Homo sapiens: one gene and its partners. The protein of the gene in region 1 purifies or fractionates together with the protein of each later gene. This does not show direct contact. Each region holds a gene or a part of one and is shown in the gene's direction. Other genes may lie near its edges.

Region 1 (2,630 bases):
GGTTTTGATGTGATAATTCAGGGCCTTCATTATCCTGTCACTCTCGTTGTGTTACAGAAGTTCAGTTCTGCAAGCAAGTATGCTGCTCTCTCTGTTGATGGTGAAGATGAAAATGAGGGAGAAGATTATGCCGAATAGACCTCTACATCCTGTGCTTTTCTCCTAGTTTCTCTCCACCCTGGAACATTCGAGAGCAAATCAAAACCTCTATCCAGACAAGACAAAATAAAACTCACCATCTCCTGAAGACCTTTCTTACCTTTTTTTAAAAACAAAAAATGAAATTATTTTGCATGCTGCTGCAGCCTTTAAAGTATTGAAGTAACTGGAGAATTGCCAATACAGCCAGAGAGAAAGGGACTACAGCTTTTTAGAGGAAAAGTTGTGGTGCGTTATGTCACCATGCAGTTGCCAGTGTGATTAGTGCCTAGGGGTCTCCATTTAGCAGAAATGGTAATGACAGTGATATAATGCCTGGAACCTGGTTGGGCAGTAGGGGAGGGAGGTAGAAGGAAAAGTGTGAGATTTCTACCTTTTAGTTTTTATCCTATTGTGGCATATATGAATTCTCAAACATTATCTGAATAAATTTTCCACTCTTGGAAAGGTAGATTTAGCCTCAAGTTGTTCTAGTCTCCAGGAGGCTGCCAGCCCCTCCTCTTATTTAATTCTGAGTTTTGGGGGCCAGCCTAGAGGGAATTCCTTTTTTTTTTTTAACCCCCCAGGGGGGTAGTTGGGAGTGAGACTATAGGCCATAAAGAATGGGACTGCATTGGACCAAAATAAATGGGAAAATCGTGGTTTGAAAAGAAGCTTTTGGGAAGTGATGAGTCATTTTGCACCAGGTAATAGGGGAAAATTGTGTGACCTCCAGCAAACACATGAATGGTTATTTCCTGGAGCCGGAAGCACTTGGGGGTCGTGGTAATTCCCAGTGTTTTCTGTGTCCTAGTTTTACCCTTTCTAAACACTGTCCTTTTTGAAAGTTTTGAATATATCCACATTCTATTGAAACCTTGAAACTAAAAATTTAGACTCTTATCATCATCTTAAGTTCTTCATGCTACTCTTAACCTCCCAAAAAGCAGTATCTAAGTCACATACATGATGTCTTGGGCATTTTCTCAGCCATGGAGAACTCTGAAAGGAAGAATCGCTGCTTTTCTCAAGCAAATCGGTTTCTTGATGTCTTTTGGTTCTCCTTGCCTGCTCCTGATGCTTGGACCCCTTTTATTGATCAGAGTGCTCTAGAATAATGGATGGTCTTGGATGATGGATAAATAGGGACAGGGACAGTTAAATTGGGAGCCTTTCTTACAACCTTGATGGGATTTTTCCCCCCAAGTTTCCTTCTCCACTGAAATGCCACACTAATGCTTGTTGGATTCATGAGGTGGCCAGACCAATGTGTTGTTTTGTTGTTGTTTTTTTAAGCTTCCCTTGAGAGAATAAATGGTAATGGAGAGAACTATTTAACAAGGTCCTGGTTTCTCTTGCAACACAGTAGCTAAACTTGCCTGCTTTTATATGCATTTTTGTAGGGATCAGCTTGGTAGACAGTATTAGCGGAGAAACACCTTGATCTTGGTTTGCAAGCCCTTCTCCCATCAGTCCTAGATTAGGCCCTGTTCAGCCATGCAGGGGTGTTGGTTTATGCGTGCTGCAGCAGTGGGCATAATGAATATAATTTACCCAGTGGACAAAGGTGTGTACCAAGTGAATTTAAATAATTGGTGTGGATTGGCCAGTAGCTAAGAAGTGGGCTTTTAAAGAGTATTGAAGATTGAAAGGGTTTTTCTTTCTTTTTTAAAAAAGAAAAACAAACTATTGATTGTAGATAATGAAAAGCTAGGGTTTGCCCTCTTCATGTCTACTCTCCTTCCAAATAGTTATATCCAAAACTGTTTTTCCCTCTCCCCTACCTTGTCCCCCCTATTAAAATAGAAACAGGGATTGATTAATGTCCCGCTCCTGAATACATGTAAAATTTGTACAAAAATATCTTCTATGAAAATGATTTGTAATCTGTAGACTTATTACCTGGGAGATGTCTTGATGTAAAATCCCATCCTTTGGGTTGTGGGTTTTTTGTTTTCTCCAAATAAATCTGATCTTTAAAGTTCATTGTAATGCTGAAGTTCTTTGACAAATACTCTGCACTCCCAGTGGTTTTTACTGTAGTCATTGACCACCTGCTCCTCCTCCTCCTACCATCTCTGAAGTTTTCATTCAGTATTGGATACCATATTGTCCAAGATTAGAGGGTGGGGTTACAAGGGAATCTATTTCAGTGTTTATTGAGGCCCAATAATAGAGTTTGCATCCTAGCTCCCCTCTGGCTTTTTTTTTTTTTTTTTTTTTTTTTTTTGCCTGGTGTTAAATTTTTTAATCACCTGGATGTGCCTGCAGTCTATTTCCTGTACTGTTTATTTTAATCAAGATGTGGGAACTCTAAGAATGAATCCTTGTGTCCTTGGGGCAGTTCCCTCATAATCTCCCTCCCTCACTTCAGCAATCTGGAGAGATGCTGCTCCCTTGAGTTACACCGCACTGGTGGACCAGAGATACTGGTGACAGGCTGGTCGAGGTTACCAGAACAGAGGCTCACAGACTCAGTGGGAATTTTCCAA
Region 2 (2,773 bases), on another chromosome or scaffold:
GATATTAGGGATGCTGTAGACCCAAGTTCTACATTCCAGATGTCCGTGCCTATAGTATACTGGATTTATTCTTCATGTTGCTTAAATGCAGTTAGCTCTGGAGGGGGATAGCTGCATCCCTTACTTCTGTGACTAGCAAAGGACAAAGTCCCAGCGCACAGAATATGAAAACATACCCTGTGTTAGCCAATCAAGTTACAGCAATGCTGTCACAAAGGGAGTTTTAGAAAACTGGGGAGTCATTGTCCGTAGACAGCCATTTTGATTTAGGAAACAGGTGTATTAGCATGAGCCTTAGGTCATGAACTGCTTTTAAAGATTGAGTTTGAATATGGGATCTGTCCACGAGGAAGAGAAAATGGCTTTACCTTTAGGACAATCTCATTGTGGACTGCTTTATTTATATTATTAGTAACGCTGTTTTAAGTGTTATTCTTTTTATTGTATTTTATTTATAAAAAATGCCTTTATATATTGAAATATATAAATATATATATATAAACACACACACACACACACACACACACATATATATATATATATATAATTGCCTTTATATTTAGGCGGTATGAGTTCTCCCTAAGCGTGAGTTGGCTCTGCCCTGCACAGGCACCCAAACAGTCCTACCTAATGTCACTTCACCAGGAAATGAGAGGACATGGTACAGTGTGGGAGACAGCACTAACACGTGCTGAATAACTACTGTGTACCAGGCACTGTGCTCGGTGCTTGTTACTGTTAACTCATTTAACCCCCACAACTCATCTACAAAGTTGGCATTAAAATCCCCAAGTCACTCAGTGAGCCATGGGACCTGAATCCGAACCTAGTTTATCTGGAGCCATAATCTGGGCTCCTCCCATTTTTCCATACTGCTTTCCAAAAGCATTGTGGTTCACTCTTTGGATGGAACCAGTCCCGTTCCGTATGCTGTGATCTATCCCTGCCGTGGAATTCCTCCGAGGCTCCAACTCCGCAGCCAGAGAAGCTGCTCTCTGGCCTCCGCGGGCAGAGCTCTGCTTATGACTTCGTCTTCCAGAGGTCCACATTTCTCCCCTTGACGCCCCCTGTCTACCACCTCCACCTGGAAATTTGATCTTTACTGTGCTCAGTGATCACGAAATTGGTCAAGCCTATTCATGTTCCTTCTCATCTAGAATTCTGTGTGATTGTTTTAGCATAAACTGCCCCGCTCCCACTGTATCATTTCACGATCTCCTTTTAATGTTTTTCTTTCAGTTTTGCACTGACAGTCTGGTGACAGGTGCTGCCAGGGTGCAAGTTACATTGCAATGTTCTAAACCTTTTGAAGTGTTCTTAGCAAAAGCCTTTCTTTCTGGGTGTTTTTGTCGAATGAGTCTATGAAGACTCAATGCATCCATCTTGGGCTGATCATGCCACAGATCTCATTCCAGCTATAGTACTGCCAAGAAGTGAAGTTTATCATTGAATTTTACCTGTGTTGCTCTCTTTTAAAGTAATGACTTTGAGATGCATGCTTTGTATCATATTGAAAAGTATGTTTTATTTTCCTTAAAGTTGTAATATTGTGTGTGAAACTGTACATATTTTAAATGATGTAGCTTTGGCAGGTTTTATTTGGTTGATATGATTTTATATTAAAAGAGAAGGCTGCTTTCATATAGCATAGCCCCTGAAGGTGGGAATACTCCCTGTTTGTACAACGCTGCTTATAGTTTGTGATTGGGGTGGGCGAATGTCTTCCTCTGAAATTCTTTGGAACCCCCCACCCCTGTCCTCCCCTGAAACTCCCCTGTGCACACCCCTCTGTTCTGACTGCAGAGATCAAGGCCCTGAAGGAGCAGGATCTTGGGCAAGTGTTTTAGGGGACGCTGAGAACATACCTGACCCTGGGGGCGATGTGGAGGCAGGCCCACCTCCTCGGGGCAACTTTGCGTTTCCTTGGAGGGAAGGGAGGTGGGTAGGAGAGGAGCTTGGGAGGATGAGGAGGAGCGGTCCCGCCTCACACATTGTCTATTTTTACCATTAACCGAGCGCCACATGTTTATGAACTTCAGGATAGAAATTTAGCCTCCTTGTGAAAACGTTTTGTTTTACTGCCCTAAGAAAATACACATCTCTAGGCTTGTCTGACCAGAAAGCCAGCAAAGTCTTTTGCATCGGGTGTGGCCCTTTTGTATTTTATTTCCCATATTTAAATAAGCCTTCCTTAAACCCTAGCCCCAGTCCTGAGAGCTTTGAGGGTAGCCGAAACCCCTTATCTAATAAAGTCTAACTCTGTGAGAACCACAGAATCTTCTTAAGCTTCTCAATTTTCTGTCTCCTTTCAGGCGCCACGTCCCTTGTGCTGGCGGGTCCCCCGTTGGCTTTCTTGCCGTTTCTTCTCATCTGTGTCTCCTGCAGAGGCGGCTCGGAGTCCCGAGTCTTCTAGTCAGTTGAACAAGCATTCATTTGTGTTTTCACCCAGATTACAGACACACACACAAACAGACACACACACTTGGAGCTAGTGAGTCATGCTGGCAGCTGACATTGTGACTCTGGAACAGCCCCGGTGCTCTGTGGGCCAGCTCCCCCAGCCTGGGGGCGGGAAGCTACATCTGCAGTACCTCTGCTCCGTATCTTGTGGGCTGCGACTCCTGGAGTCGGACCACTGCAGCGTCAGTGATGTTCGTAAGCTATGGTTGAGCAAAGGAACACACACCTACACACCTTGCTTCTTCCCACTAGCCAAACCTGGGACCCAGCCATCAGCCTGTCTCTGTGGGAGTCGCAATGGAAGTAGCCCTCT
Region 3 (2,185 bases), on another chromosome or scaffold:
AGGGCAGGGGGCTGGTTGGTTTAAGAGTGGATGAGGTTAGTGGTCTCTGAACCAAGCCAGCTCTCCTTCCAGCAGTTCTTAACTATCACATACCTTCTAAAGTCAGATTTTTACTGTTCACTTAGTCCAATTCCTCCCTTTACAGTAAAGGAAATTGAGGTGCCAAAAGGGACAGACATAGCTAGGATCACCCAGTGGACTGATGGTAGAGCAGGGCTTGGAAACTGGTGTGTCCATCTATCTGATGGACAGATGCTCTTTGTCTTTCCTTTCTGCCCTTATCCCCACTGGTGGGGCCTTCCACAGTCAGACATGCAACGGCTCCACGCCCCTGCACCTGGCAGCCCGTGACGGCTTGCTGGACTGTGTGAAGGTCCTGGTGCAGAGTGGCGCCAACGTCCATGCCCAAGATGCCATGGGCTACAAACCCATTGACTTCTGCAAAATATGGAACCACCGTGCCTGTGCCCGGTGAGAGTGTGAGAACCACCTGGAGCCTGCCCACCCCCTTCCCCTCCCCCAGCCTTTTCCCTAGGGCCCTCACCACAGCTGAGCCTTTAAGGGGAGGGTTGGGAAGCCAGACAGCTGGAGGATGCGCCTACTGCCCAGGATATTTTGGATGAGGCAATCACCTCATCACCTGGGCTTGGGGGTAAGTCTGCCCAGGTCCCCTGCTCTCTGGGTTGATCACTGCCCTCCTTTCCTGCCCTGGGGCCCCTGGCTCCTCAGCAGGAGGGTGGTGACCAGGTCATCAAGGACTTTCGTCTTTCACCTAAAGGAAGTAGGGAGCCAGAGGGCCCCGGGCAATGGGGATGGCTCATCTTGCTCCTCTCCCTCTGGCCACTCCCCTCATCCCCATCCAAGCCCTCAGCAGCAGCCAGTCTTCCCAGCCCAGGTGGAAGCTCTGTCACTGTGGGATGACACCCCCGCCCTGACCTTGGCACCAGGTTCTTGAAGGATGCCATGTGGAAAAAGGACAAGAAGGACTTTGCCCGTGAGATGACGAAAATGAAGATGTTCAAGAGCCAGCTGACCCTCATGGAGCACAACTACCTGATTGAGTATCAAGTAAGGGGGACAGCAGGGGGGCCAGGGGACAGCTGCTATCCAGGCATGTGAGCAGAGGGGGCAGTGACCCACATATTGTGGAGGAGTGGCTAGAAGCACTCCCACCCTGAAAGAGCCACCCTTTCGCCTGTACTCCCACCGGGTACTCTGACTGAAATTCCGCTCTTTTAAATAAGCCAGTCTTTTGGTCAAAAGTCTTATCCTGTGTTAGAAAGCCAATTTAAGCAAGCTTAAATTCGCAAGTATTTCTGGGCCCCTCCTAGTGTACTGCCTCTTTCAGGATGAGAACCTTCAATGAGACCAAGGCACTGCCTGTAACTGGGGCTCACACTCTGGTTAAAAAGATCCACCCTTCCTTCCAGCAGGCACTGGGCATTCACTCTGTGCTAGGAACCTGCTAGACCCTGAGGTCTAAAGATGAACAATATGTGGTCCCCACGCTCAAGGAGCTTAGAGTCTAGCAGAGGAGGCAGGTTACAGGCCCATCAAGGAGGAGAGGGTCCAGGAGGGTGTCAGGAGGCATGATGCTTAAGAGGAGTCTTGAAAGATGCGCAGCAGTTGGCTATATGAAGGAGGGAAGGGCTAACCAGGCATAAAGAGCAGCCGCATGGAAAGGCATAGAGGCACCTGGGAACATGATGTATGCAGAGAATGAAAACTCAGAGCAGCTGGGGATCAGATGTAAGTTGGAGGCTGACAAGATTTGGCAGGAGCCCACATCAGTGAAGGACCTTGGCTGGGGAAGAAAGGGGATTTTAAGCAGGTGTAATTACATAGGGTGCAAAACCCAGAAAACTCAGAAGATACTGGGAATCTTAAGTGAATCCTGAAATGGGGAGGGCTTTGGGGCTGCTGACTCCGGCACACCGGGTCTGTTTCAGTTCCATTTCTCTCCAGTTCTCAGCCCTATCCTCCTCTGATGTCAGGGTCACCAGTCCTCAGAGTCACACACTGTCCAGAGGAGGCAAGGCCCATCTGTTTCCTGTAGCTCTAACCTTTTCCAGAAGCTCCTTGCATCTTCCCTCATCTCTTATGGCCTCAATTCGATCAAGTGTCCATTCTCGTTCCTTTAGCTAGAACTAAAGGAAAGCCATATGCTGACTGACTTAGGTCTGGG
Region 4 (2,315 bases), on another chromosome or scaffold:
CTTTTTTTTTAGTAAAAGTATAGACTACCTATTACATTCAGAGGAATAAATAAAAATTATTTCTTTTACTAATTTACTTAAGCCAGAGAAGGCATTCCCTACAATGTGAGAAAATTACTCCTTACTGTTTCTGGATAGTAGAGGTAGAAATGTTTCTGAAATTTCTTTCATTATAGTTTTGCTTATAGGATGTTTAATTTAAGGCCTTGCATATTAACCACAAGGCAAAGTTTTTGTCTATTTTTTTACCTTTTATTTTTAAATAATCATAGACTCAAGGAAAGTTGGAAAAATAGTACAAGGAGTCTCATGTACCCTTCACCCAGTGTAGTGCAAAACCAAGAAATTGACATTGGCACATTACTGTTAACTTGACTGCAAACTCAGTTTTCACCATTTTAAAAAAACTATCATGATTTGTGTATATGTATGTGTGGTTCTATGCAATTTTATGTGGGCAAGATTTTATTGTGTGTCTACTGGTGTTTGTGCATACCATGGCTAAAGTGTTGGGTTTTCCTCCATCCTATACCTAGCTAGTTGTGATCCATCTCTGCCATCATGGACAGGCTTCTATACTGTTGTCATTAGAGATGAATGGTTCTCAAACAAGGGCAGTTTTGCCCCCTAGGTGACATTGTCTTGAGACGTTTTTGGTCATCACAACTTTAGGGAGTATGGCATGCTACTGGCATTCAGTGGGTAGAGGCCAGAGATACTGCTAAACATCCCATAATGCACAGGATGGTCCCCCTCACCCACTTCCCAATAGCAACTAGTACTCCAGCCCAAAATGTCAGTAGTGCTGAGGTTGAGAAACCCTGCTGCAAGGGCTGATTGCTTTGAGGAGTCAGGAGGCAGGAGACAGATACTTTGCAAATCTGTCCTGGTGATTTGATTATATGCCTGTCCTCCCTCCCCTAGCCTTTTTATTTTTTTTCCTGAAGTTTTTCCGGAAGAGAGCTTTGTCTTCACTTCTAATGGCTTTGTCCTAACTTCTTCTTACAGGTTTTCAAAAATACCTGGCAAGAAATCTGGAAATTCTATAATTTTGTTGAAATATTGAAAAAAGATGACCTGCATCCTAACCCTTGAATGACTCAAATCAGTGCCAGGTGGAGGACTCCCATCACCTTCTCTCAGAACAAAATCACTTCATTTTATTGTCTTAGTTTGTATATTTTCTGTGACTTGAAATAAACTTTGAACACAATTTTAGTACACTGCAAATTGATACACATGACCTTTTTGCTTTTAAAAAGCTTAACACTAAGGGTGAAACCTTAGATGTGTTTTCTACCCTTACTGCAGTATTGTACTTTAACATATTGCCATAGTTTTGTTTTTAAGTTAACCACTTATTCTTCTTGATGATATTTGAGAATTTCTCAGAAGCAATGTTTTCTGGAACTTGGTTTTTGTTTAGTTTGCTTCCAGTAAGAATTATTATAAGGCTTTGCCCTCTGAAAATATTCTAGCACTTCGGAGTCTTCTAGGAGAAAATATCACATGCTTAGAGCTATAAAATGGTCAGAAGGCTAACAGAGCAAAGAGCCTAGCACAGCTGTGTGTTTAGTTTAGAAAAATCCAAATATCAAAATGCATTTGTTTCAATAGCAGGTCTGAACATGTATAATTCAGAGTTAAGACAAAAATTGTTTTAGCACTGGTTTGAGTGTGTCAGCAACACAAGAGACTGTTGACATTTACTTGTGTGTTCTTAAACTTATCAGTCTAGGCAGTCAACTTTGAAAGTTTAAAAAGCCACTGATTTTTCACATGCTCAAGATGAAATAAAAACAGAAATCAAATGAACAAAATACATTTCATCCTATCTTCCAGGCAGTCCCTAACCTGCAGCCCTACCCTGTAACTACGTTTATTCTGGGAACTTACAACACAGAAAACCCTAAAACTTGTACATTCTTCTCATTTTAAGTGGACCAAATGTAGAGCACAGTCAGATTGCTCATTAGGTCTGCTCCTGCCTGCTTCCTTGCGGATAGGTATGAACATAATTAGTGCCATTAGCTCTAATCTATGGGTCTTATTGCCTAGTATTTCTCTCTCTCGCCGCGCCGCCGCCTCCTCCTCTCCCCCCACCCCAACCCCATCTCTCTCGTAGTGGCATTAAGGAGGAACATGGTTTCTCTCTATCAGGCCAACCTCAAGAGGTTAAGAGTTGCCTTAATAATCAGTAAAGTTCTACTGGAACTACTTTTGAGCCAATTTATATTCTTGGAATTCTATCCCCTGGGTTAGGATTATGGTCAGGTGAATTAAAAGCCTGGCATAGGCTTAGAGAATGTAATAGC
Region 5 (3,500 bases), on another chromosome or scaffold:
ACCAAGTGAGACCAGCCCCTCTCTCACTCCTGTGGGAGTCCCAGCCCCCACCCCCCTCAACCTCCCAACCCCTCCCTCTCAGATCTCCCAGGCTTGGCAGGGCACACTGTGTCACACCTGTAGTCCCTGCATTTTGGGAGGCCGAGGTGGGAGGATCCCTTGAGCCCTGGAGTTCGAGACCAGCTGGGCAACATAGTGAGACCCCCGTCTCTACAAAATATAAAAAATAATTGGCCAAGTGCTGTGGCTCACGCCTGTAATCCCAGCACTTTGGGAGGACAAGGCGAGCGGATCACCTGAGGTCAGGAGTTCGAGACCGGCCTGACCGACATGGTGAAGCCCCGTCTCTACTAAAAATACAAAAAAAAAAAAAAAAAATTAGCCGGCCGTCGTGGCACACGCCTGTAATCCCAGCTGCTCAGAGGCTGCGGCAGGAGAATCGCTTGAACCCGGGAGGCGGAAGTGGCAGTGAGCCGAGATCGCGCCATTGCACTCCAGCTTGGGCAACAGGAGCGAAACTCCGTCTCAAAAAATAAAAATAAAAAATTAGCCAGGCGTGGTGGTGCACACCTGTGGTCCCAGCTACTCAGGAGAGCAAGGTGGGAGGATCAACTGAGCCCAGGAGTTCGAAGCTATAGTGAGCTATGATCGCAGCACTGCACTCCAGCCTGGGGGACAGAGCAAGACCCTGTCTCAAGAAAAAAAATTTCTTTTAGATGGAGTCTTCCTCTGTCGCCCAGGCTGGAGTGCGGTGGTGCGATTCCGCCTCACTGCAACCTCCGCATTCCGGGTTCAGGCGATTCTTCCGCCTCAGTCTCCCAAGTAGCTGGGACTATAGGCGCGGCCCACCAGCCCGGCTAATTTTTTTTTTTTTTTTTGTACTTTTAACAGAGACGTGTTTTCACTATGTTGGCCAGGCTGGACACGGACTCCTGGCCTCAGGTGATCCGCATGCCTCAGCCTCCCAAAGGGTTGGGATTACAGGCGCGAGCCACCGCGCCCGGCCTACAAGGAAAAATTTAAATTAAAAAATTTAAAAAGCCGGGCGCGGTGGCTCACGCCTGTAATTGTAGCCCTTTGGGAGGCCGAAGCAGCAGGATCCCTTGAGCCCAGGAGTTCAAGACCAGCCTGGGCAACATAGGGAGACTTTGTCTCTATTATTATTATTATTATTATTATTAATTTCTTTTAAAGAAAGAAAAAAAAAAACTCCCAGGACTGACCTGAGCCCTTGGCTCCTCCCAGACCACTCAACCTTAGTCATAGCCCTCGGAATCCCCAATCCCCACATCTGGCTCAGCCACCCCCGCCCCTCCACGTCCCACCCAGGTCACCGAGGCAGAGGAACTTCTTCAAAATCTGTTTCAGCAGTCCCTGTCTGGGCCCCAGGCCTCAGTGGGGCTTGAGCTGGTGAGTAGCTCCCATTCCCTGGGCGCTGGACCTTAGGTGGATGGGAAGGCTGCGTCCCAGCCATCATGACCACAGAGTCGTGCCTCTTCCCCAGGGCAGCGGAGTGACGGTCTCCAGCGGGCAGGGTATCCCCCCCCCTACCCGGGGGAATAGCAAGCCGGTGAGCGGGGCTCGGGGACCCTGGAAGGTCGGGGGTCCAGGTGAGGCCAGCCTCCTGACTGATTGATCCCCCTGCCAATACCCCCACCAGCTTTCCTGCTTCGTGGCCCCGGACTCCGGCCGCCTGCCATCCATCCCTGAGAACGTGAGTGGGGAGGGGTCTCTGGGGGTGAGAACAGGTCCCGAAACCCGGACCGGGGATGCAAGATCCAGGGGCCCGTCCACGCCCAGAGCGACTCTCTGATCCTCAGAGGAACCTAACGGAGCTGGTGGTGGCCGTGACTGACGAGAACATCGTGGGGCTGTTCGCGGCGCTCCTGGCCGAGAGAAGAGTCCTGCTCACCGCCAGCAAACTCAGCACCGTGAGGCGGGGTCCGCCGGGCCGGGGTGGGAGCAGGGCCTGGCTCCGCCCCGGGGGGCGGGACAAGGGGGCTGATTCCTGGCTCTAACCCTACTGCGCGAGACCCGAGGGCGAAGTCCTGGCCCCGCCCCTTCGAAGGTCTTGGAGAGTTGAACTCTGGCCCCGCCCTCGTGGGAGGGGGCTGCGCTGCAGCTCCTCCTTTTTGGGAGTACTGTGCTCAGGCTCCACCCACTATGGGCCGCAACACGTCTGGCTCCACCCCTCCGGACCCTCAGGGACACTGAGAACTAGGGACTTATACACGTGGGAATCCAGGGACCCAGGGACCCAGGGACTCAGGGACTCAGAGATCTGAGGACCCAGGGACCCGAATACCCAGGGACCTAGGAACACAGGGACTCAGATAACAAGGGGCGCAAAAAACTAGAGACCCATACTCCCAGGGACCCTGAAACCCAGGGTCAAAGGCAGACGTGGAGACTGGCTCCACCCCTAGGGGCGGGGCCAAATGATTGCCTTCCGGCTCCACCTCTTTGGGTGGGGTTACGTCTTGGATCCACCCCTAGGGGCGGGACAAGGGCGGTCTACGTCATAGCTCCACCTCTTTCGGGGTGGAGTCAGTGGAGGCTCAGTCCTTGCTCTACCTGCATGGGGAAGACTCAGGGGTGTTGCCTATTAACTGCGCCCCTTACAGAGAGGGATCAGGACGGTATGAGTCCTGGCTTCACCCGCTTAAAGCACTGTAAGTGGCCAAATTCCTGGTCTCCACATGATTTCTAAAGGGGTTCGAGTTGTCACTCATTATCCAGCAGTGGATGGGGAGGGGGAACAGGAGACTGGGGACGTGGGAAATGCAGCTGGAAGAGACCTCGCGCTAGAGGGTCCAGGCCCTGACTCCACGCCCCGCCATCGCTCCCCAGCTGACCTCGTGCGTCCACGCGTCCTGCGCGCTCCTGTACCCCATGCGCTGGGAGCACGTGCTGATCCCCACGCTGCCCCCACACCTGCTGGACTACTGCTGGTGAGCGAGGGCAGCTGGGAGGGGCAGGGCCTGTGGGCAGGCCCTGGGGGCGGTGCCTGCATGACCCCGTCCCCTCGGTCCGCAGCGCGCCCATGCCCTACCTCATTGGAGTGCACGCCAGTCTCGCCGAGGTGAGCGTGGATCTACCCAGACGACGGGGACGTGAGGGTTCCCCCTTCCTCTACATCCCCAGATGCCCTCCTCTGCCAAGGACTCCCGGGCTCTGAGCGGCCGACCCCGCTTTTCCGCAGAGAGTACGAGAAAAAGCCCTGGAGGACGTCGTGGTGCTGAACGTGGACGCCAATACCTTGGAGACGACCTTTAACGACGTGCAGGCGCTGCCTCCAGACGTGGTCAGTGTCGCCCCTCCCACCTTCCTGCCCCGGGAGGCGAGGGGCCCACACCTGCCCACTCAGGGCCACTCCCTTGTGCTTCAGGTGTCCCTGCTGAGGCTCCGGCTCAGGAAGGTCGCCCTGGCCCCCGGGGAAGGGGTGTCCCGTCTCTTCCTCAAAGCCCAGGCCCTGCTCTTCGGGGGGTACCGCGACGCAC
Region 6 (3,788 bases), on another chromosome or scaffold:
GCCTGAGTGGGAATTCAGGGCCTGAATTCTAAACTCAGCATGGCCACCCACTCGGCTGTGTGCCTCAGTTTCATCTTAAGTCAAACCAGGATCAGATACTGCAGTTGGGGTGATTTTATTAGTCAGAGACTAATTTTATCAGCCAGGGCCTTTTCTCTCTCATGCACGTACCTTCTCGGGGAAATCAGGTTGGAGATGAAGATCATCAAGGGCTCCAGTGGCACCCCAAAGCTCAGCTACACAGGGCGTGATGACCGGCACTTTGTACCCATGGGCCTCTACATCGTCAGGACAGTGAATGGTGGGTGAGGAGGGACTGTTCCCGCCATCCCCTCCCCTCTCCCCTCTCCTCGCCAGGTGATGGGTCCAGACCCTACCTGAGCCAGAGCGAAGGGCTCCCAGCTAAGGTGGGTAGCAGCCAGGCTGGCATTTCTCTGAGGCATATGTTAGGGGACAGTGTTCCCTGAGCCTCTTCTGTTCTTCCGTGGGCCCTGGGAGTTGGTTAGGCAATAGGGAGAGGAGCTCAACTTGTACACACGCACGTGTTGTTCTCATGGCAGGAAAAGGGCCTTCTCAGTAGACAGCAGCAAATCCAGAAAGTCAAGCTTGGTTTCTGTCCATTTGCATCCCCCTTTCTTCAGAGCGCTCTGGCTAACAGAGTCCTACATCTGTCAGAGTCCTAGAGATGTTACCCTGATGGAGGGTTGGCAGGACTGGGGTGGGGTCGTTGAGAAGAAGTCATCGCGTAGTCATTCTCCTGCAGCCCCTTTGGGCTGGTGATGAAGGCTGCTGCCTCACGGGCTATTCCCTGCTTGCTTTTGGTGGGAGGCAGGAATAGGACCACCGGGAGTGGAGGAAGGTACACGCCTGTCCTCCACAAGTGCTTTGTGTCCCTTCTGGGCTTCATCCCCTCTTCCTCCCATCAGAGCCCTGGACTATGGGATTCAGCAAAAGCTTCAAGAAGAAGTTCTTCTACAACAAGAAAACCAAGGACTCTACTTTTGACCTCCCTGCAGACTCCATTGCCCCATTTCAGTAAGTAGCTCTCCTCCAAGCCTGCCCTCCTTAGCAGCCTCAAGTACTCCTGCAGGATGCCAGCCAGCTGTCTTGGGGGCACACCCTGGGTCCTGAGACTGTTGCCCATGCAGGGGTTCCCCTGAGCACAGGCCTGAGAATACTTGTGGGGATGGCAGCCCCCTGCAGGTGTGGCTGGACCTGGGTAGAGCTGGTGAGGGAAGCACGATGCCTGGACCTGCTAATGGTTACGGGCCTGGCTGTGAAGGCCCATCTGGGCAGCGTATCCACCCCATGGAGCAGCCACGTTTCGGTGACATTCCAACACTGGCCTGATGGTGGGAACCTGCTGAGGGCCCACAGCCCTGCCCCTTGGCACTCAAGGTCCCAGCTGTCCCTCATTAGGACCCGGTGTCCATTAGTCAGACTGTTGGTCATAGGCTTCCCCAGCAGCCCTAATGTGCCTGTAATTAGCCACTGACATTTTCTGTCACCACACTACTAATACTGTATATTAGAGAAGCACAGACAGATAAGTCAGGAATATCAGTCACTGTAGGAATCCAGTTGGATGCAATTAGCAGCAACAGCTGTTTGTTGGGAAAAGTTGGTTCTGGGAGGCAGGGGAGTTAGGGCCTACCGGGTACCTTTTGCCTGCCGGGGGAAGAACCTCAACTAAAGTCATTGACAGACCCCTCCGCCCCACACCCTTAAGAACACATGACCCTGTGCCATCTGGGTGCAGTCCTGACCTCTTTCCCATCCCTCTCCTCCCCAGCATTTGCTACTATGGCCGGCTCTTCTGGGAGTGGGGGGATGGCATTCGTGTGCATGACTCCCAGAAGCCCCAGGACCAGGACAAGCTGTCCAAGGAGGACGTCCTCTCCTTCATCCAGATGCACAGGGCCTAAGAGCCTCAGAATGTGCCACCCCTGCAGAATGCCCTGTCATTCCTGAGATGGGGCCACCTGGGGCCCACAGTGCTGGCTTCTTCCCCCTCTTGAAAAGGGACTGGGGAGCATTGCACCTGGCATGAGGAGTGGGTGGCCTCCTCTCCATCCCCTGAAGAGCTCAGGCAGGGCCCTGCAGAGAACACTCATGTTCCTTCTGGGACACCTGCCTGGGAACTTTCCCCTGCCAGGACTCAGCCTGAAGGAAGCTGCTCCTGAGGCAGGTATGAGGTCAGTGCCTAGGGCACGTGGGACTGATGGAGGACATATCAGAGTGGCAGAGCTGTGGGCTCTGCTGTTCTCTCCTGCATCCTGTAGACTCACTTTTCTGAGTTCCATGCACTGCCCTGAGGGTAGCCATGCCCTTGCTTTGCCCAACTTTTTATTGGGCCATCCCTGAGTGGGTGGAGACCTGCTGTCATGAGCTGGCCAGGAGAACCTGCTATAAAAAAATCAAGGTTTTGTTTCTTTGAACTTACTCTGTTTTGATGCCAAATTGGAGACCATTTTCTTGTCTCCTTCCCCCACTCATCCTGGCCTTCCCTGGAGTTCTTCCTAGCCCAGAGCTCTGACAGTCCAGCAGGGTGGGAAGGAGGGAGTTTGGGCAAACTCTCATCCCTGATACCACATTGAGATCCTGGGAGCCCTCTTTTCGTACTGAGTATGGAGTTGTAGAGCCATCCTAGGTGCCATCCCCTTTTGGTCCAAACATTGGGCAGCGCTAGATGGCAGGAAGCAGCCTTGAAGACCCGTCTTTCCCCCACAGCAGCAGGGGCCCCAGCAGTAACAAAGGGTACCTCCAGGGGTTTGGGTAGCGCTGCCCTCTGGCAGTCATGCACCGCTGTCTGCCATAGCCGCTCTAGGGTCTTGGCAGAATTCTGAGCTTGAAGTGCAGCTCCCTTACTACCCTTTCCCTTCCTTTTTCTTCCCTAATAGGAGGTACAATCTGCTTTTGTTTGTCGTTAAGTGGTCACTCCCATTTCCTTTATCTTGGCCGACAACACAGAGAGGAGGGGGAGCTGGGCAGTAGCTTGGGGTGGGGGTGGGCACCTGTGGTTGTTTTTAATGGGAAATACCTCTCAGAGATGTTCATGCAGGCTCCCTAGGGCCCCATCCCAGTGCCAGGCTGGTTTCCATGGAGATAGGGCACTGAGGCTCCCGTGAGGTTGGAATCGACTTCACCATGGGGGTCCTTCAGCCAGCATCCAGCTCCCCACCCCCAGGCTGGCAGTAGCACTGCTGAGATGCTGTATTTCCACCCAATTCTGGGTATATCAGTGTGTCTTGCAGAATCTTGGATCATTAAAGATAAACATATTTTTAATGCCTGTGTGGCTCTGTGTTGGGGCTGCTGCTGTTTGTCCTCAGTGCTTTGTGATCTGAGACTGGCTTGGATGAAACAGCTTGAGCCAGAGGTGAAGGGGAAGCAGCTCTACTCAAAGCAGAGGAGAGAAAAGAGGGTTTGTTTAATCGGAGCCTGTTCAAGCTCTTGGGCACCTGCAGGGCTCCCAGGGCTGCTGCTTGCTGCTCAAGAGGGGGCTCAAAGAAGAGTTGGGGGAAATTGTGCAGCTCCTGTTACAAGCAGGGACTGCAGAATGAATGAACCCACAGCCCCGGAAGGGCAGAGAGGCACCTTCCCCCCTTACATAAATCACACAGCTCACTCCATGGTGGCACTGTGACAATCCAGGATCAGTCTGTGTGACTAAAATAACAGAGGCGTCAGACCAATTAGTGTCACTAGACTTGGGCGAAAGAGGGAGGGAGAGATAGATGGTTTCACTGACCCTAGCCTGCCTCCCCTCCAAGGAGGGCTGGTTCTGC
Region 7 (3,500 bases), on another chromosome or scaffold:
ATCTAAGGATTGATGGGTGGCAACGCAAAACCTTTAAATTTAGACCTGAAGATTAGTAGCAAGGTTGCTCGTCGCTGCACATTTTTGTTATATTTCCCTTTTTTTTGAGATGGAGTCTCACTCTGTCACCCAGGTTGGAGTGCAGTGGTCACTACAACCTCTGCCTCCCGGTGTCAGGTGGTTCTTGGGCCTCAGCCTCCCGAGTAGCTGGGACTACAGGCATGCGCCACCACACCCAACTAATTTTTGTATTTTTAGTAGAGATGGGGTTTCACCATGTTGGCCAGGCTAGTCTCGAACTCCTGACCTCAAGTGATCTTCCCTCCTCGGTCTCCCAAAGTGCTGGGATTACAGGTGTGTGCCACCGCACCCGGCCCATTTTTGTTATATTTCTTGTGAGAAGAATTGTTAATTCTTTAAATTCAGCAACATTTACTGAATAAAGATCTGAAATCACTGTAGGTCTGTAAACATTGTTTTGGTCACTCTAAGGTCATGTTTTAACACTAAAAATACATTAAATCTTTTTTAGCCAATACCTGCAAGTAAGCGTGCATCTTCTGACCTTAGTATCGCCAGCTCTGAAGAAGATAAACTTTCACAAAATGCTTGTATTTTGGAGTCTGTCTCAGAAAAAACAGAACGTAGTAACTCTGAAGATAAACTCAACAGCAAAATTCTTAATGAAAAACCCACCACTGATGAACCTGAAAAGGCTGTGGAGGATATTAATGAACATATTACCGATGCTCAGTTAGAAGCAATGACTGAACTCCATGACAGAACAGCAGTAATCAAGGAGAATGAAAGAGAGAAGAGGCCCAAGCTTGAAAATCTGCCTGACACAGAAGACCAAGAAACTGTGGACATTAATTCAGTCAGTGAAGGAAAAGAGAATAATATAATGATAACCTTAGAAACAAATATTGAACATAATCTAAAATCTGAGGAAGAAAAGGATCAGGAAAAGCAACAGATGTTTGAAAATAAGCTTATAAAATCTGAAGAAATTAAAGATACTATTTTGCAAACAGTAGATTTAGTTTCTCAAGAGACTGGAGAAAAAGAGGCAAATATTCAGGCAGTTGATAGTGAAGTTGGGCTTACAAAGGAAGACACCCAAGAGAAATTGGGGGAAGACGACAAAACTCAAAAAGATGTGATCAGCAATACAAGTGATGTGATAGGAACATGTGAGGCAGCAGATGTGGCTCAGAAAGTGGATGAAGACAGTGCTGAGGATACGCAGAGTAATGATGGGAAAGAAGTGGTCGAAGTAGGCCAGAAATTAATTAATAAGCCCATGGTGGGTCCTGAGGCTGGTGGTACTAAGGAAGTTCCTATTAAAGAAATAGTTGAAATGAATGAAATAGAAGAAGGTAAAAATAAGGAACAAGCAATAAACAGTTCAGAGAACATAATGGACATCAATGAGGAACCAGGAACAACTGAAGGTGAAGAAATCACTGAGTCAAGTAGCACTGAAGAAATGGAGGTCAGAAGTGTGGTGGCTGATACTGACCAAAAGGCTTTAGGAAGTGAAGTTCAGGATGCTTCTAAAGTCACTACTCAGATAGATAAAGAGAAAAAAGAAATTCCAGTGTCAATTAAAAAAGAGCCTGAAGTTACTGTAGTTTCACAGCCCACTGAACCTCAGCCTGTTCTAATACCCAGTATTAATATCAACTCTGACAGTGGAGAAAATAAAGAAGAAATAGGTTCTTTATCAAAAACTGAAACTATTCTGCCACCAGAATCTGAGAATCCAAAGGAAAATGATAATGATTCAGGCACTGGTTCCACTGCTGATACTAGCAGTATTGACTTGAATTTATCCATCTCTAGCTTTCTAAGTAAAACTAAAGACAGTGGATCGATATCTTTACAAGTAAGTGTACATGAGTCATTGTTTGGGTTTTCCTTTGCCATTTTCTCAATTCAGAGTTTATGTGAAATTGATGTCTTGAAAATAAAACAGCATTAAATTAATGTAGTATTAACAATATAAATTCTTACAGCCTATGAAAGCAATTAAAAAGAACTAAGGAGATTGTGGATCTAATCTTTAAATTTTGTGGTAGGATCTACCTATTTTTGCAGACCTGATGCAGATAAACAGTGTAATATGGTTGCTTGGTGTGATTAGGTTCCTTTATTGGACATATCTAGATGCAACATTAGCAAGAATCAACAATGTATGAGAGAATTAGAAATTGAAAGAATGATGTCTTTTTAAGCACATTTAGGGTGTAAACAATCCTTGATTTACCATTGGCCCATACAGTCACAGACATTGCTACTGCCATGAGAACCATTGTGGGGAAAACAAAACAAACACTAAAGCCCAGAACACTTGGAGCTTTGAGTGTAATTCTCAAATTTTAGTGTGCTTAGGAGTTACTAGCGGCTATGTAGAAGTCTGGAGTGGGTCCCAAGGATCACTATTTGTAAAAAAAAAAGATCCCACAGAGTTCTGATGCAGGTGATCCATGGGCTGCCCCTTGGAAAATACTTCCTAGACCCTCTGGGTTGATAGTAGCAGAAGAGAAGACAGAAAAGCAGGAACAACCTAAGAAAACTGACATAGATGGATCTCTAGGGCATGAGTGATTAGTCTGCCTATCTGCCCCAAATTCCTAGGATTTTCTTACATGTATTCCTAGGATTTTCTTCTTTTTTCAGTTTACTTTCTTTCACTGACTGAAATAACCACCACTCTGAAATTCATTCACTGACTTAATAGCCTCTTTTAAAAATGCAAATAACTTGTATAAGAATGAAGAAGATATTAATTATTGAACTTTTAGTAGGAGCTGAAGAAATGTGAAGTTTGGAGGTTAAGGTGTAGATAGGTGTATTTTTTGGAGTCTGCCAACTTTAGATTTTAGAGGAATCCTGGGTAGGGTACCATAGTCCTGGACTTTGGAAGAAGAGCATGAGGATCCTGGAAGCTTGGAGAAGAGAACAGTAAGAGGAGAGGATGCAGAAAGGTGATTGGAAGGTGCCAAAGAGAAACTGTTTAAAATTTGGATGCATTTTGAGTTTAGCATTTTCACATTCCATTTTTGCTTCCTCTGCCTTCTAACCCTTTCTTCCATATCAACACCCAGTAAGTATCTGCCCTGAACACTTAGTTTACCAAAATGTATTTGTAGGAGTCTTATATGTCTGTTATTTCTGTTTGCATTTAAATGTTTTTGGATACCAGTTGAGGAATGAAGAGTTTAGTCTTAATAAAGAATTTTAGGTCATAGCTAGCAGCCAAATCTGGTACTTTTGGGTGCAGCAGAGGCACTGTCTTTCTAGTAACCCTAAAATCATACATATATCTCTGGCCCTGAGATGGAGGGAGGGGCTGTCGATATTATTGTTACTGATTAAGTAGATTTTGATCCCCAGTGCTGGCAGTGTTTAAAAATTACCTGAGAGCTTTTTCAAAAAAAAGAGATTTCCAGCTACCCTCAGACCTGTCAATTTAGTTTTTTTTTAAGAGATGAGCC

The links.
Region 2: the proteins of EIF4B (region 1) and CDON purify together in Homo sapiens (affinity purification with mass spectrometry, with the first as the bait; one large-scale study listed by BioGRID). This does not show direct contact.
Region 3: the proteins of EIF4B (region 1) and ANKRD53 purify together in Homo sapiens (affinity purification with mass spectrometry, with the first as the bait; one large-scale study listed by BioGRID). This does not show direct contact.
Region 4: the proteins of EIF4B (region 1) and CSTF2 fractionate together in Homo sapiens (co-fractionation; 2 studies listed by BioGRID). This does not show direct contact.
Region 5: the proteins of EIF4B (region 1) and DENND1C purify together in Homo sapiens (affinity purification with mass spectrometry, with the first as the bait; one large-scale study listed by BioGRID). This does not show direct contact.
Region 6: the proteins of EIF4B (region 1) and CMTR1 fractionate together in Homo sapiens (co-fractionation; one large-scale study listed by BioGRID). This does not show direct contact.
Region 7: the proteins of EIF4B (region 1) and SLK fractionate together in Homo sapiens (co-fractionation; one large-scale study listed by BioGRID). This does not show direct contact.

What each region holds. Positions count from the first base shown.
Region 1 is NC_000012.12:53,040,086-53,042,715, forward strand, and holds the end of EIF4B (eukaryotic translation initiation factor 4B), read left to right. Parts: intron 1-57; coding exon 58-138; 3' UTR 139-2,130; downstream 2,131-2,630. UniProt on the Homo sapiens protein: Required for the binding of mRNA to ribosomes. Functions in close association with EIF4-F and EIF4-A. Binds near the 5'-terminal cap of mRNA in presence of EIF-4F and ATP.
Region 2 is NC_000011.10:125,956,321-125,959,093, reverse strand, and holds the end of CDON (cell adhesion molecule-related/down-regulated by oncogenes isoform 2 precursor), read left to right. Parts: 3' UTR 1-2,273; downstream 2,274-2,773. UniProt on the Homo sapiens protein: Component of a cell-surface receptor complex that mediates cell-cell interactions between muscle precursor cells. Promotes differentiation of myogenic cells.
Region 3 is NC_000002.12:70,981,630-70,983,814, forward strand, and holds part of ANKRD53 (ankyrin repeat domain-containing protein 53), read left to right. Parts: intron 1-306; coding exon 307-471; intron 472-947; coding exon 948-1,068; intron 1,069-2,063; exon of another isoform or gene 2,064-2,185. UniProt on the Homo sapiens protein: Required for normal progression through mitosis. Involved in chromosome alignment and cytokinesis via regulation of microtubules polymerization.
Region 4 is NC_000023.11:100,839,706-100,842,020, forward strand, and holds the end of CSTF2 (cleavage stimulation factor subunit 2), read left to right. Parts: intron 1-1,008; 3' UTR 1,009-1,815; downstream 1,816-2,315. UniProt on the Homo sapiens protein: One of the multiple factors required for polyadenylation and 3'-end cleavage of mammalian pre-mRNAs. This subunit is directly involved in the binding to pre-mRNAs.
Region 5 is NC_000019.10:6,475,288-6,478,787, reverse strand, and holds part of DENND1C (DENN domain-containing protein 1C), read left to right. Parts: coding exon 1-5; intron 6-1,329; coding exon 1,330-1,410; intron 1,411-1,504; coding exon 1,505-1,570; intron 1,571-1,660; coding exon 1,661-1,714; intron 1,715-1,820; coding exon 1,821-1,931; intron 1,932-2,549; exon of another isoform or gene 2,550-2,672; intron 2,673-2,850; coding exon 2,851-2,951; intron 2,952-3,036; coding exon 3,037-3,082; intron 3,083-3,202; coding exon 3,203-3,304; intron 3,305-3,388; coding exon 3,389-3,500.
Region 6 is NC_000006.12:37,478,221-37,482,008, forward strand, and holds the end of CMTR1 (cap-specific mRNA (nucleoside-2'-O-)-methyltransferase 1), read left to right. Parts: intron 1-188; coding exon 189-301; intron 302-926; coding exon 927-1,035; intron 1,036-1,792; coding exon 1,793-1,925; 3' UTR 1,926-3,288; downstream 3,289-3,788. UniProt on the Homo sapiens protein: S-adenosyl-L-methionine-dependent methyltransferase that mediates mRNA cap1 2'-O-ribose methylation to the 5'-cap structure of mRNAs.
Region 7 is NC_000010.11:104,001,640-104,005,139, forward strand, and holds part of SLK (STE20-like serine/threonine-protein kinase), read left to right. Parts: intron 1-532; coding exon 533-1,888; intron 1,889-3,500. UniProt on the Homo sapiens protein: Mediates apoptosis and actin stress fiber dissolution.